Linked DNA regions of Homo sapiens: region 1 is linked to region 2. A link means that fine-mapping ties the variant in region 2 to the expression of a gene that starts in the linked region. Tissue or cell type: whole blood. Region 2 holds a variant in brackets; the other region holds the start of a gene. All regions are shown on one strand. Distances are between the middles of the regions.

The links. PIP is the estimated chance that this variant, and not a neighbour inherited with it, causes the effect.
Region 1: LAMC1 starts here. The variant in region 2 is fine-mapped to the expression of LAMC1 in whole blood (INTERVAL, PIP 0.99).

Annotation. Positions count from the first base shown.
Region 1 is chr1:183,021,669-183,025,810 of GRCh38, forward strand. It overlaps LAMC1 (laminin subunit gamma 1), which reads left to right and starts at 1,752. Exons shown (of 28, transcript NM_002293.4): 1 at 1,752-2,466. The coding sequence starts at 2,049. RefSeq lists enhancers at 449-1,004, 1,005-1,559, 2,115-2,668 and silencers at 1,071-1,460, 1,491-1,880, 1,931-2,000, 2,021-2,160.
Region 2 is chr1:183,051,431-183,055,430 of GRCh38, forward strand. The region is part of intron 1 of LAMC1 (laminin subunit gamma 1); the gene reads left to right. Among named protein-coding and RNA genes, the nearest start is that of LAMC1, 30 kb to the left of the region's middle. The variant G/GT (reference allele first, on the strand shown) is at 1,989.

The sequences.
Region 1 (4,142 bases), 30 kb before region 2:
ATATAACAAAGTACTAAAAATGTATAATAATGCAAATTCACTAATATGTTTATTAAAATATAAACAAGTTTATTACAAATCTGTAGCTTTATTCACAACTAACATCCTTATTTTTGTCCTATATGCCCACGTTTGTCCTCAAGTACAACGAAGGACTGAGAGAGCATATAATCCCCTCTAGGTGTAAATGAACGTATTTATTTCGCTTCAACTCATGTATGAAAGGATTAAAAAATTATTAGTCCCCACAACTTAATTCTCCCAAAGAGAAGGTGCCAAGAATGAGGCACCTTTAGCCATGCATAATCTCCACCCATCTCATCAAATAAACGGAACAGTGATGAACATAACTTGCTAAGTAAGCTCAGCCGTGTAACAAGACCCTAGATTCCCCTCCCTTCTTCATCCTACCAGAACATTATCCTTAAGGTTTTCCTAATCAGCAGTCTGCGTCTAACTAACCCTAACTATCCAGAGTCACCTAACATATACTTATTTCCTTGTTTCAGATTCCCATTACGCCTATCTTAATGGGACAACTGGGTCCGAAATTATGCATGTGTTTTTTTGTTTTGTTTTTGCGGTGTACTTATTATCCGCACTTTATCATTAAATTCCTGAAAAGCTAGAACAAAACAAATCCGTGTCATTCACTATGTGCATCCTCTCTGCTTGGGGACGCCAAGGGTTTCAAGCTGCTGCCTCCCTGCCCTGGTCTCTGCTTGCCGTATCCAGCACTGGGTAAGCGCCCAGGTTCTGCTCCGGGACTAAAACTCATGATCTTCTGGCTCAGGTTCTGTGAACTGAGTCATTCTGGCACTGAGAATATTCCGTGACTCAGCAGGCCCGAAAAGGAGGATGTCAGAATCCACATAATTTCGAGTCTTTTAAAGGCAAGCCGAGGAACACAAACAACACAGTGGAAGAATTTCGCAGTGGGTCGTGCGTACCCAAGGGAAAAATTCATTCCATTCCCAGCCTTTTCACTTCCTTCCTTGCCCCGGTAAAACGACTGGTTACACTTTAAATCAGCGGCAGGAAATCGCTTCACGAAACTCATCTGGCTGCTGCGACCAGGCCCTTCTGATTCTCCAGGGACCGTGTCGGCCCCATGAACGCCCCGGGACCTCTGTTCGGGAGGGGCTGGAGCGGGGCCCCGGGCAGCAGCGGGCGCTCCCGGTTCGGACCCACACCTGGCCGGGCGGGGACCCTCTTGCCGCAGCCCAAATTGGCGCGAGGCCCCAGGGACGACCCCGAGCGACCTCCTGACCCGGCATCGCCCCTCTAAGGCGCCCTCCCCCGACTCCTCCCGCAATCCGGAGTCTCCCAGGCCGCGGAGCCCAAGGACCCCAGCGACTCCCGCGCGGGGAGCGGGTCTGCGAGGCCGCCCTTCCCTCCCGGCATGCACCACCCAGCCGCCCTCCCCTCCCCTCCTCTCCTCTCCCCTCCCCTCCTCTCCCCTCCTCTCCCCTCCCCTCCCCCAACCCCCTCCCCCGGCTCCCCGCCCACCTCGCGCGCCCCTCCCCCCGGGTCGCGCGCCGCGGGCCCGAGCGCGAGACGCCGCTGCTCCCGCCCCCGCCGCCTCCTGGAGTCGCCGGGGCGGACGCGCAGTCCATGGGGCGCGGTGGGCCGGGGAGTTGCCCCAGGGGCCGCGGGAGTTGCTGAGAGGAGACAGGGTTGGGCTTTCTCCTCGCCCAGACCCCACCCCACCCTGCCGACCCCACCCCCTGCTCCTTCCTCCCCGGGGGCGCGCACTCGGGCACGCGCTCGGAAGTCGGGGGTCGGCGCGGAGTGCAGGCTGCTCCCGGGGTAGGTGAGGGAAGCGCGGAGGCGGCGCGCGGGGGCAGTGGTCGGCGAGCAGCGCGGTCCTCGCTAGGGGCGCCCACCCGTCAGTCTCTCCGGCGCGAGCCGCCGCCACCGCCCGCGCCGGAGTCAGGCCCCTGGGCCCCCAGGCTCAAGCAGCGAAGCGGCCTCCGGGGGACGCCGCTAGGCGAGAGGAACGCGCCGGTGCCCTTGCCTTCGCCGTGACCCAGCGTGCGGGCGGCGGGATGAGAGGGAGCCATCGGGCCGCGCCGGCCCTGCGGCCCCGGGGGCGGCTCTGGCCCGTGCTGGCCGTGCTGGCGGCGGCCGCCGCGGCGGGCTGTGCCCAGGCAGCCATGGACGAGTGCACGGACGAGGGCGGGCGGCCGCAGCGCTGCATGCCCGAGTTCGTCAACGCCGCCTTCAACGTGACTGTGGTGGCCACCAACACGTGTGGGACTCCGCCCGAGGAATACTGTGTGCAGACCGGGGTGACCGGGGTCACCAAGTCCTGTCACCTGTGCGACGCCGGGCAGCCCCACCTGCAGCACGGGGCAGCCTTCCTGACCGACTACAACAACCAGGCCGACACCACCTGGTGGCAAAGCCAGACCATGCTGGCCGGGGTGCAGTACCCCAGCTCCATCAACCTCACGCTGCACCTGGGTAAGCGGTGACAGCCCCGTCCCCTGCTACTGCTCGCCAGCAGCCCAGCTCCCGGACCGGCTCCGTCCCAGTGGCCGGCCTCACGGGCGCAGACGGCCGCGTGTTTGCTCTCTGTTCCCCGGCATGGGCCACACAGAAACTCCTTTCTCCAACTTCTTAAATAGATACTGCTTTTAACATCCCGTGAGGGCCAGGATGTTCCGCACGAGTCTCTCTGCTTTCCTGTTCTTTCTGACTTAACGGGATTCTGGCTCTCTGATTATTCTGCATTTCGGCTGTTAGGATTGTGATTTCCCCCTTTTTTTTCTGAAGCGTTAATCAGAAACTCCCATCCCCACTTTTCTCTTTGCTAGCAAGGTCATCACAGCGCATTCTTGGATCGGAAACAAGAAGGTCCGCCTTAAACACTTTCGCCTTTAAAATGTTTAGATGTCCTTCCAGGGCTGAGGGTGATTGCTCTGTTGAGTTAAGGGGGAATTTGAGGGGAGCAAATGCCTTCGCTGCCTATATTGCCTATGTGTAATTAAAACATAAATTCACTTTTGAAGTTATTGTTCTTTATAGCTGCTCAGCCTTAATTAAGAACCACAAAGCGATTTGACTGCTAATCCTGGTGCAGAATGAACAAAAGGAAGTGCACTCACTGTAATTGCTGGGCATAGCCTTGTCCCTGGGTAAAAAGGCTCTCCTTTACTGTCTTCCCTTTTGCTTTCATTCAAAGCAACTGTAGAAACACGTGTAAGTGATGTTTCAGAAATCAGGAAAGGGATGTGTAGAAAACTTCATGGCAGGGCAGTGGATTGAGGATGGACATATGTATCTGGAAGCACCAAAAATAATGTTCGGTCTAGCTAAGGTTTTCTTCATCATTGAGATACGTAAATAGGCAGAAAGTTTCATTATTGTGTTTAACAGAGGAATCTATGTGTGAGAAACACGTTTGACTTAACACTTCACTCCCCATTGCCTTGGAAGGCTTGATTATTACCAGTAGCTGGTACTAATGAACTTCCAGAGAGAACAGACTGCCTCAAGCCATTCTTCTGTCAAGGGAGGGTAATTTTGTAAGGCTAATATCACTTAGGGGTGTTGGAAAGGAACATGTTGTAGGCAAATGGTTCTTTTGATCATGATTTTGCTGCTCTCCGGTACACTAAACTTTATGTAAGTATCAGGATTCCAGAGAAAGAATTGGACTTAACAAAAAGTACTTTGAAAAGTGGGATTAAATTATTGTGTGTGGAATAAGTGTTAGAAAAGCAGAATTATTTAACATCTTATTTGCAGTTGAGTCATTAAACAAATGAAACATTTTGAAAATAATTTCATAAAATGATACTATGAGGTATCTGTTTTTCAGGGATTGAAGAAGTAAAGTGCACTGAGTTCAGTTTTTTAAAGGTGCCTTTCTGAAGACATAGCTAGTGACCGAGGATTTCCTAAGATCTGTGAGATTGCTCTTTATTTTCTCCTGTTATATTTTTTAAGTTGGCCAAAATTATTTTTGAAATGTGTATCTAAGTATTTCTGTTTAACTTTTGACTTGTTAAAGTTTCTGTGTTCAAGTTTGAATACTCTTGAAGTCTTATTTTTTTCATTTTCAGATTTTAAAATTTTCAAAGAAAAGGCGTTGCCTGATGTCTGAAATCTCAGATGCCTGAAATTCAATTGACAAT
Region 2 (4,000 bases):
GCTGAGTACCACTGTGTGACTTCAGTCAATACCGTGTGGAGTACACGAATCATCCAGCTGAACCCTTCCCAAATTCTTGACTCTCAAAATCATGAGATAAAAATGGTGGTTGTTTTAAGCCACTGAGCTTTGGAGTAGCTTGTTGTGCAGCAGTAGATAACTGGAACACTTACTGAGTCTCTGGGATTATTGAGTTGGAGTGCCTATGCTGCTCTTCCCAAGGGGAATCAGCCTTTTTTCCTTCCTGGAATGGTTGCTTAGAAGAACCTGTAGACACCCAGAGGAAGTTACACTTTTCTTTGGCTTTAACTAGAGAGCCATGGGAGAGGAGCCAGAAATATCCCGAGGCTATGCATTTCTGAGTTCTAACTGAAGCCTGGCAGAAATTTCAAACCAAGTTATCACAGGGATCTTGTGTCTGAGAGAGCAGACTGTCTTCTGGTCAGTATCCTTGTGTGTCTAATGAAGGGAAGACAGGTGCAGGGATCCATCTTCAGGGTGTTCTCCAGGAGAGCCATAAATGTAACAGTAGGAAAACAAGCTATGTTCATATTCTTGGTTTCTGCTTATTTCTCTGATAAAAAATCATTCCTTTCATTGGTTTCTGCTTGTTCATCTGATAAAAAAATCATTCCTTTTGTTACCTGTCAAAACATACAGCCCCCTGATTGCAACTCAAGGTGCTCTGCACTGCGTATCCAAGAGTAACCATCACTTCTGCTTCCCCTGTTTTGTTGCATGTGTTGGCTAGCTACCTATCCATTTTTGTGTTCTCATCCCTTTTTCTTTCTGTTCTGTCTTTCACAATTACCCTACTTTCCATTCCTCTTCCCATCTCTCCCAAACTCTGCTAATTGATATTCTGGTCATACTAAAAGGCTAATCTATCTATCTTTCTTTTGTTCTTTCTTTTCTTTTTTTTTTGACACAGTCTCACTCTGTCGCCCAGGCTGAGTGCAGTGGCATGATCTCGGCTCAATGCAACCTCTGCCTCCTGGGTTCAAGCAGTTCTCATGCTTCAGCCTCCCGAGTAGCTGGGATTACAGGCATGCGCCACCACGCCCAGCTAATTTTTATATTTTTAGTAGAGGTGGAGTTTCACCATGTTGGCCAGGCTGGTCTCTTAACTCCTGACCTCAGGTAATCCGCCTGCCTCAGCCTTCCAAAGTGCTGGGATTACAGGTGTGAGCCACCATGCTCAGCCACTTAACTTTCTTTTTCTTACATTTTCATCTCTTTATCCCTCCTGCTCATGTCCCTTCCTCTCCCTCACCTTAAGCACAGCCTGCTTGGGTTTTTGGGTGTGTGTCTTATAATAATATATCACTTAGTAAATTATAAGCAACTTGAGAATAAAGAAGGTTCTATTCAGTCATAATGCTTAAGAGTGTTCATCAAATTATTTGGGTTAAATAAAACCCTTTATTTCCATTTTCTTCTCCCTTACTGAAAAAAGCTACACTAATGTTCTCTAGGATTGATGTGCATAGAGAATGGGAACTTAAAGAATTATTGTCTTAAGGGTATGTGGGTTTCCTTATCCAAACACAGGTAAATGAGGGAAGAGATGTAAACAACGATTACTCTGTTCTTCCTAGTGTTGGTTGGAGTTCTCTGTACTTCTGTTTCCTGTCCAAGGAGGGAGAGATCCGTCATTCTGAATTTATTTGTTTGAATTTATGGGACAAAAATGCTATAAATCAAATCCCTTGTTAGGGTTTTCCAGTGCGTTAAATGTAAAAACTTGAAAAGTTTGCTGAAAAACTTGGTTTCCGTGTCCATATTTAATAGATCATATTTTCCCCAGATATTTTCGACTATAGCCATTATAAGAAATATATTTTGTATTGCCACCTAGTCAGTACATATAGCTGAAACAGGTTTATCAAAGCAAGTCTAACCATTATTTCCTGTATCATACTCTGATATTTTCTATTCACTTCTAATTCTTTTTTAAAAATGCTCATCTGGATCTGTTTTTTGTGTGT[G/GT]TTTTTTTTTTTCATTTCAAACTAATGGGTTGTTTGAAAAGTATTGAGTTACATAATAGTTGCTTGAATGGTAAGGGTCTGATTCTGAGTCTCATCAGCTCTCCTGAGAGAATTGGTGTTCTTAGACTGCATTGGTGGCTGAATCTGATCAGAACATTTACATTTTGTGAAGATCTTGTATAATCCAAAACATTCATAATGAAAGATAGTTTTGGTTTTTTTTTTTTGACAGAGTCTTGCTCTGTTGCCCAGGCTGGAGTGCAGTGGCACGAACTTGGCTCACTGCAACCTCCATCTCCTGGGCTCAAACGATTCTTGTGCTTCAGCCTCTTGAGTAGCTGGGATTACAGGCGCACACCATCATGCCTGGCTAATTTTTTGTATTTTAGTAGAGACGGGGTTTTACCATGTTGCCCAGGCTGGTCTCAAACTCCTGAGCTCAGGCAATCCACCCGCCTCGGCCTCCCAAAGTGCTAGGATTACAGGTGTGAGCCACTGCTCCTGGCCAAAGATAGGTTTTATTATTGGGAAAAAGTGTTAAGATAGGTGAAATCTATAGTCTTTGCTCAAATGTTGCTTTTTATTTTCTAAGTGTCATCACTAGTGTTTTGCAGAATGTTCTCTCAACAAGCAGTACTGCCTATTGAGGTGGGTTGATTTGTTGTTCTGAATAGTTCTGCCACCTCCAATTTCATTTTAAAGTCATTGATTTTCAGGTGCATTTGTAAGGCTAGCATCATTAATATCAGCACTTAATAGCTAACATTTATTAACTACTATGTGCTATGCATGGTGTTGAGTGCTTTTCTTAGATTAATTTAATCCTCAGCACAACCCAGTGCGGATGGAGCACTCTCCCAGTTTACGGAGGAGGAAGCCGAGGCATAGAAGCCACACAGCTATTTGTGAGGATTCAGGCTGTGCACTCTAGGGTCTGGTTATAGAGGCTGTTCTCTGAATCACACTGTGCTCTGCCTCAGAATAAAATGCCTTCTATACAACGTGGCTGTAACCTTAACTTCTGGGGACTGGTATCACTTGTTACTCTTTCCTAAATTTTGGGGTCATTTCCAGTATTCTAATGGCAACGATACTATAACACAGCCCCTAGGATACTGATATTCTGTTATATTGAGAAGAAAGCAGGGGTAAATAAGGTCTTTTGACATTTTAATGAACTGATTGCTTAGGGTTTCAAGATTAACCCACCCCGTATATTGCAAGGTCGCTTCTCAGCCTGAAGTTTACTTAGGTGAAAAACAGGACATTTTATTTCTTTAGTGTCTACTTTATGCTAGACACAGTTCCTGGCTTGGAGACTACAAAACTCAATGTGGAGCATTTGGCTTTGATTAAGAGGGAAGCCATTGATTATTCATAGACTTCTAGGACCACAGCCACCTTAGAGCCTTAGGGGCTTTTCCCACTTGACCCCTTCTTCTACTGAAGAGGAGCAGGCCAGGAAGCCAGTGGTTCCTCATGGTATCAGGATTCCTTGTTCTTGGTGCTCTATTGTGTTGCCTTTTCTTCTGCCATCTTATTCCTTTGATTAGTGAGAACTTTGTGCATCTTTTTTTTTTTTTTTTTGAGATGGAGTTTCGCTCTTGTTGCCTAGGCTGGAGTGCAGTGACGCAATCTCGGCTCACTGCAACCTCCACCTCCCGGGTTCAAGCGATTCTCCTGCCTCAGCCTCCCGAGTAGCTGGGATTACAGGTGCCTGCCACCGCGCCTGGCTAATTTTTTGTATTTTTAGCAGAGACGGGGTTTCACCATGTTGGCCAGGCTGGTCTCGAACTCCTGACCTCAGGTGATCCACCTGCCTTGGCCTCCGGAAGTGCTGGGATTACAGGTATGAGCCACCGCGCCCGGACACATCCTTTCTTTATCATTTCTCTTCCTAGTGTGTGAAATGTGGCGATAGATGTTTATAACCACTTACTAGGGATTGACTCAGCTATGAACTTGATACCTGCTTAGGGTGACTAATTTAGCCTCTTGAAGCCTCAGTTTTC